Homo sapiens: one gene and its partner. The protein of the gene in region 2 purifies or fractionates together with the protein of the main gene of each other region. This does not show direct contact. Each region holds a gene or a part of one and is shown on either strand. Other genes may lie near its edges. The genes, in order: TRIT1 and HDDC2.

Region 1 (3,814 bases), on a different chromosome or scaffold from region 2:
TTTGATTGTGCCAACCCCAAATAAGATTCTTCATAAACTGGACTGGGCTGCACCTGCTACCACAGGAAAGGTGAGACTAGGAGGGTGCAGGCAGCATCCACAGCACACCTGGCCTTGGCTAAGCTCTGCACCTGTTTCCAGGCCACTCTACATTTTCCTTTCTCCTCTAAGCCCTTTGTTGGGCTTCTGTGCCCTGTCTAAGCACCTTTCAACAAGTTCTCGGCTCCCAGCTGCTATTTCTGGCTTGGGTCCAAGGCCATGCTGGGGTGGGGAAGTCCCCCTGGCTTCCTGCCAGAACCATATCCCAGCAGACCAGCCCTGGCCAATCACGCACAGCTCCTGATTTACAGGGCAGCTGTGCCTTTCACTCCAGCACCAGGACGATGCCGGCATACACACGAATGAGGAACAGGCATATGACACACTGTGCCATCAACTCCTCCTACCACAGAGATGGAGGAATTATTGTGGTTTTACTACAGGAAGAAGTTCTAAATTATTACCCAAAAGTCTTCTGTTAAAGGCTTATTGTCAGACATGGGGATAAGAGAAGCTGCATTAGAAATTTGTAATACAGCACTGAGCTTCAACTTCAGATGACACTAAGACTTCTATCTACCAGGACATGCAGAGAAAACAGGATAAGTAGAGGAAAGCACAACAAGCCTCTTCACACCAGAACTCCACTGGAGAGCTCAGGCAGAGAGTGGGAGCTGGGAGAAAGAATGTTAGCAGTTTAGTGGTCAACAGCAGGGATCAAGGTATGTATTTTCAGAGGCACCGAGTGGGGCAGAGGCTTCAGCTGGCCCTGTCTGTAATTGAGAGCAGAAGTCTACCAGCAAAAGGTAAACACAAGATGATTCAGAAGCATATTTAAAACATGTCCACAAGATAAAACTGAAGTTTCACTTATGCTTAAATTAATCTCCTTTAGCTCATAACCACATAGTTTTTACCCATGGTCCAATACTAATGCTGTCTTGCTAAAGTTACAGCTAAAGGAAGTAAGAGTAGTATAAAGGAGTGTGGACTCTGTGTCAGGCCTGCATTCAGTTATCTACTGCCGACTAGCTGGGTGATTTTTGGCAAGTTATTTAACTTCACTAGGCCTTCATTTTCTTATCTGTAAAAATAAAAGAATAACACCTACCTTGAAGACTCAATAATATATGTATAACACCAAATTTAGTGCCAAAGACACAGTACAGGGCCAAATCAATGAGAATTTCCTTTCTTTTCCCTCAAAAATGCTGTTCAACTAAAGTTTCATTTGAAGCAATCTGAAGCACCATGTGGAGACGCTGGGAGAAATGGTGAAGGTGTCTTTTTATACAACTCATCTGGCCCCCCAAAAACACTGTAATTAGGAAATCTTCCCTACAGAAATCTGACTGCTCTTCAGGTACAAAACTGAAGCTAAAAATCAGCCCTGAACACCAACTCTCCAAAAAAGATGCTGCTGTTCTTCTTAGCTGTTTGCAGCCAGTATCCATCTGTTCAAGGCAGAAGGCAGACTCCTCAATGCAAATAATTTTTTTTTTTTTTGTGACATCCCAAGAAAATATCCCTGGATAATCATTTATGTTATAGAACTTCCCTTAGGTCAGATCCAAAATCTTAGAACAGGCCCAGAATCTAAAATTCATTTTCTGGGTGAGCTGAGGACATCTATATTCTATTGAAAACAGACCCATAGGATAAAGAAAAACATGAGACTTACTGCTCAAAAAACGGTTTTTAACCCATCGGTTTTGTTTCCGGGCATATCTCTTAGTTACTTGTTTCAGAGCCTCAATACCTGAAAGATACAGTAGATTTAAGAACATCTAGGTAAGCACTCCTTACCCTGCAGAGAGGCAGGCCCTCCCAGCCCAGCAGGAAAAAGTCAGCCACGGCAGTGCAATGTCAGACTTGGTGGACAAAAATCTCAGTTCTGAGCTGAAGGCTATTTGGGACGCTTTAAGCCTTGGCTCTTTCTCAGACCATACCAGCAGAGTACCCTGCCACCCAAAGATGTCCAAGACTAGATTAGATGGAAGAATTCACACCTTTCTTTAGAAGCTGGTTACTAGTCTCCAGTGTGCATTTTCCCTCAGTGATCAGGTACTCGTGAAATTCCTTGAAGCCAATTGATTGGAAGATACCATGTTGATAGTCCTGGCTGGGAACAGGAGGGTATCAGCAGATAAGCCATTGCTCCTAAAAGCTAGCAGGGGCTTTGGAGATGGACCTAGTTGAGCCATTTCATCTGTCAGATAAGGAAATTGAGATCCTGAGCAGTTACTGATTCTCTGAAATTTTCCCCTCCCCTACCCACCAGGTTACTTTCTTGAAAAGTTAACTCCTGGGACTGTCTGAAAGATTAAAAAACTGCATCTGCAAAGAAGGCTGATAAACAAGTAGACCCAAAGCCAGTATTAGCGTTATGGTCTTTTGATTGTCTGCAAAATATGGACAGTAGGTCAGAATAACAGCCAAATCCTCACCTATTTTCCGAAACATTCTTCTGATTATAGCGTCTGTGAAAATCTCTTAGTTCCTCCAAGAGCCCAGCAGCAAGCATGTCATCCACCCTCTTATCCAAGCGCTCATCTAGAACTTGAATCAAATTAGCCCATCAACCAGCAAGCAAGTTGTAGGTACCTACTATATACTTACATGACGAGTGAACAGGTGGTCACAAAAAAAGAGAATTTGTCCAAACGGAAGAAAGAATTCAGATTCCAAAGATTATTATAATAATTCATACGTTACTCACATTTAAGACTTTGCAACTCCAAATAAAAATGAAGCATAGTCAGAATGAAGCACATGCCTCCTCATTATATAGAGAAAGCATACAATTACAGCAACTGTGAAGGACAAATATTTTATTCTCATATGGAATGTGTTTTAGAGGTGGCTGAGGATCCCCTGGTTTACCTTTCTTATTTTTAATTTAATATGTCATTATACTGCAACTTAGTGTTACTTTATGTTTAAGAACCCCTAGATGACACCTTGGATAAGAACATGGAACTTTAATCCAAAGACATCCTAGATACGGCCGGGCAAGGTGGCTCACGCCTGTAATCCCAGCACTTTGGGAGGCCGAGGTGGGTGGATCACGAGGTCAAGAGTTCGAGACCAGCCTGACCAACACAGTGAAATCTGTCTCTACCAAAAGTACAAAAATTAGCTGGGCGTAGTGGCGCGCGCCTGTAATCCCAGCTACTTGGGAGGCTGGGGCAGGAGAATCGCTTGAACCCGGGAGGCAGAGGTTGCAGTGAGCCGAGATCGCACCACTGCATTCCAGCCTGGGCAACAGGGCGAGACTCTGTCTCAAACAAAAAAAAAAGACATCCTAGATACATTCTAAACTACTGAGCCAAGCAAAGGAGCAAAGAGTGAGAGGTCGTAATTGTTCAGATGTGACAAACAGCTTTACTATGAATCAGATACCATTATTTTATGCTGCCTGTAGAGTAAAAGTTTTTGTTTATAAAATTTCATTATTGAAAAATTACCTTTTTTATCAATTTATGGCAGATTAATTTAACAACAGATTGTCACCATTTTAATTATGTTCTTCTACATCTCTATCATTGTGATTTATTGGCCTACAGCAACAGTAACCTTCCTAGAAAGTTTGCATTTATTGAGGACCCGTCATGTGTCAGGCACATTCTGAGCACTATATATGTATTAATTCATCTAATCCTTGATGAAGCTAGGAAATATGTGTTATTACTATTATCTCTATTTTACAGGAGAATTGGGAAACAGAAAGGTAAACTAATTTGTCTTAACAATTCACATAACTAGAAGCTAGTGG
Region 2 (3,914 bases):
CAACAGTGTCCTCTGAGATTTCCCTGCCTCTAGTCTCTTTCTGGTCCAGTTCAAATCCCAGACTACTCCAAACTGCATCTCTATTGGACTTCATTTTCACCTTGTACCATTTGCCAAAAACCTCCTCAGTTCCACTTCATCTGCTGAGTAACAGAGGACTCCTCAGGCTTCCCAAATGAACTCTTTGCTGCAGTCAAGTTGATTAATTTCTCATTTGCAAAATACTCCTTTACTTTCCTACACTCAGGGCTTTGGTTTATCTGCCCTTCTCTCTGCATGCAGTGACTTCTCCTACCTCTCTGGCTACGTTAACCCTTTTGAGCTCAACTCAGATTGCACCTCCTCCATTAAGATCAACCAAGAACAGGTGATCTCCCCTGCTCTTACAATACTTAACATTTTCGACCATAACTTACATTTCACTTCTTACAGAAGCTATTTTGGGCCTGCGTAATTCACTTGGGATTTATTTACTCTCTTACATGCTAGTAAACTTTTGTTCTGTGCTCAAAAAGCATTTTAACACTTGTCGATTAAATGAAGGGGGAGAAGATACCTCTTTCTCAGCTATGTCTTGCACACACAACTCCAAAAGGAAGCCTCACGAATGGATACTACTATCCATAAAAGGCACTAGGAAAGAGCACACAGTGTACTAATACAATGCTAGAATTTTAGACATAACACACTCACCTTCAAGGCCCCAATATCACACTTAAGTTTCCCCTGATACCCTAGGCAGGCTCTATCACTTGCCAACAGAAACCCCAGATTGCAGTTTACAACAACTGAGGCAACATAACCCACATCCTAAATTTGTATGGTTTGCTTCAAATAATTTTTCTTGACCTATAAACTAACCTACAAGGATTTGACATGGGTCTCAGTAGTAAAAACGGGTGCACACCCATAGACCAGAATCTCTCACGAGCATCAAAGTCCAGCTCAGCTTACCGGTCTTTGTTAAGACGGTCATCTTTGATCACCATAGCCATAACTGCCATCCGGTACATGTGATCTGAAACGCTCTCCGGCCTCTGGACATTTCTGTATACCCAGCCAGTTCGTGGGACTCTCTGATAAATATGAAGAAGAAAAAGAAGTTTTAAAGAACAAATATTAACTATCTGCTATGCTCTTCAAGAGATGTCCAGGATATAACACACAGAAGCCGGGTCATAATTTCAGAACCTATTACAAAATGTTTTGCTAAACTAGCTAAAATGATAGACATCTGGAATCAAATGAACTAGAGAGCTCAGAGAATGAAAGGGGTAGAAGACAGAGAGAGATAAGTCACAAAGTCCATTCGTCAAATTATTCTGTTACTGATGTATAATTATGGAACATATGCAAGTCCTTTAAACAAAAACAAAACTGCATTTTTCCGAACAAGAGTTGCGGCTTTTTGCCTTCAAATAATCCTACACAAGCAGAAAACACTGTATTGAAGGGTCTGAACGTGAACGAGTGATAGGCTTCCAAATTCTGAGGCACAAGGGATAAGGGCACTTCTAATTGCTTGATGCTACCAGCCGTGACTCTTCCTTTTATTCACATCATAACTTCATCTTGTGAAACTGCATTTCTTCCTCAGAATTCTACATCTCTAAGGAATGTTATAAATAGTAGTCAGAGTGGCATGAAACGGATAATTTACTTTGAACTTGGGAGAGAGACGGGGAAGACGCACATGATGAAACTCGTGTGTATTACATTAAATCCCGTTTGGGGGGTGGCCGGGAGAAAAGTCTTGTTTCTGGAAGTAACTGTGAGACAGACATAAAAAGCTCCACTTAAAATCTGAGGAGCCGACAGATTCTGTTCTTCCCACCCGTGCTCAGAAGCAGCCGCGCTTTACACACACACACACACACACACGAGTTCTGGGGTCGTGAGCACACACACACACACACACACACACGAGTTCTGGGGTCGTGAGCCCCGGAAAAGCTCAGTGCAGGCAGGGCCAGGCCGGCTGCTCTCCGGGAACTGGCGCGGCTGCAGTGCGGACCTCGCGGCGCCAGGCTCTAGGCTCAGACTCCGGGCCGCCCCAGCTGGCCAGCCTGTCCCGCCGGCTGCTTCCTCCGTCCACCGTCGGCAACGCGCGGCCGCATCCGCAGGACTGGGGCCTTTCCGGAATTCGGCGTGGCGGACGCGGCGCAGGAAGGGCAAAGACCGCCGGCCGAGCGGGGAGGCCGGAAGCTCCGCCGCCCCACAGTCCCGCCCGCTCGGCCGCGGCCTCCCGGCCTGGTGCCCGCTCACCTTGAGCTGCCCTACCAGCCGCAGGAACTGCAGTAGGGACCGAGCCCCGTGGCCCGAGAAGGTCGCAGAGGAGACCGAAGCCATGCGGCCACCGACCCCGGCTGGGCGGAGCAGGCCGCGGCGAAGCTCCTCCCCGTCCTCCTCCTCCTCCCCTTCCCCTTGTCTTTCTTCCCCCTCCTCTTACTCTTCTATCTCTTTCTCCTCCCCCTCTTCTTCTTCCTTCTGCCCCTCTTCCTGCTCCCCCTCTTCCTCCTCCCCTTCCAACTCCTCCTCCTCCTCCCCCACTTCCGCTTTCTCCTCTTCCTCTTCCTCCTGCCCCTCTTCCTCTCTCCCCCTCCTCTTCCTCCTCCTCCTGTTCTTATTCCTCCTCCCCCTCCTCCTCCTGTTCTTATTCCTCCTCCCCCTCCTCCATATTCTCACGGTTTTCTCAGGACCTTCTGTCCAGCCTTCGCCTTCTTGGCCTTGGTGTCCGCTGCTTGGGCATTGCTCCGTCAGTGGCAGACACCTTGCTTGGCACATACTTGACACTCAGTACTCTTTATGAAAAATAAAGCTCTCCTTTCTAAATTTATGAACCTCGTTATTCTTCAGTTGACAGTGTAAAACCATGAAACTGGATGAGGTCACCTGGCAAGAGGGTGTGAATGAAGAAGAAAAGACACCCAAGACCTGAACCCCAACATTTAGGCTTTGTGAGATCAAGAGGGAACAGCCAGTGAGGTAGGAAGAGGATTAGTAGGTAGGATAGTTGTGTCCTGGAAGCCATGTACAAAAATATTTCAAGAAGGAAGGAATATGGTCAACCAAGTCAATGTGAGGACCAAGGTTTGACTTCCAGACTTAGTAAATTCAATATTATTGGTTACCCTGACAAAAGCAGTTTTCAGTGTAGTGGGCCAAGCAGAACCTAGTGAGATAATTCCGAAGAGAATAGGAGCAAGTATTACAGCACATTGGAGATGGGGTTGGGGTGCTGTTAACTAGTGGAGAGATTGTTTCAAAACAGGAGATATTATGTATGTTTACTGATGAAGGGGATCTAGTAGAAAGGGAAACATTGATTATGTAAGAGACAAAGAAGAGAAATATTTGAATGTCGGCCTTGAGTAAGGAAAAATATTCCCATCTGGTGTACAAGATAAAAGATGGGCTTTAGATAGGAATATGGAGAATTCATTCAAATATTGGAGGAGGACAGAGTATAGGGTGACTAATCAGTCGCACATGTGGTCATGGGAGGTTGTAGAAGTTCTCTTCTGATTGCTTCTATTTTCTCACCAAATTAGGAAGCAAAGTATAGGCTGGGATGTTATAATAACAAACAACCTCCTTATTTCCTGTATCTCAGCAGTTTAACACATCAAAGGTTTATTTCTCTCTCATGCTAAGTGTCTATTGTAGATCAGCTAGAGGATGCTGCTTGCTCTAACCTTACTCAGGGAGCTAGGAGGCTTTCTTTGCTCTCTTTTGCCAAAATTGGAAAAAAGAAAAGTGGCACTCTGGCTCTTAAAGCCTGTCTCTGGAAGTGATATATGACCTTTTGTCTACGTATCATTGGTGAAATAAGTAACACTGCCACGTCTAACTTCAAAGGGGGCCTGTGGAGTGCAATCTTGCTAGGCCTCTGGGAAGAAAGGAGGCTAGAATGT

What was found.
Region 1: the proteins of HDDC2 (region 2) and TRIT1 fractionate together in Homo sapiens (co-fractionation; one large-scale study listed by BioGRID). This does not show direct contact.

What each region holds. Positions count from the first base shown.
Region 1 is NC_000001.11:39,845,500-39,849,313, forward strand, and holds part of TRIT1 (tRNA dimethylallyltransferase isoform 1 precursor), read right to left. Parts: intron 2,599-3,814; coding exon 2,487-2,598; intron 2,249-2,486; exon of another isoform or gene 2,162-2,248; coding exon 2,049-2,161; intron 1,799-2,048; coding exon 1,721-1,798; intron 1-1,720. UniProt on the Homo sapiens protein: Catalyzes the transfer of a dimethylallyl group onto the adenine at position 37 of both cytosolic and mitochondrial tRNAs, leading to the formation of N6-(dimethylallyl)adenosine (i6A37).
Region 2 is NC_000006.12:125,299,584-125,303,497, forward strand, and holds the start of HDDC2 (5'-deoxynucleotidase HDDC2), read right to left. Parts: upstream 2,385-3,914; 5' UTR 2,350-2,384; coding exon 2,266-2,349; intron 2,178-2,265; exon of another isoform or gene 2,015-2,177; intron 1,770-2,014; exon of another isoform or gene 1,661-1,769; intron 1,077-1,660; coding exon 955-1,076; intron 1-954. UniProt on the Homo sapiens protein: Catalyzes the dephosphorylation of the nucleoside 5'-monophosphates deoxyadenosine monophosphate (dAMP), deoxycytidine monophosphate (dCMP), deoxyguanosine monophosphate (dGMP) and deoxythymidine monophosphate (dTMP).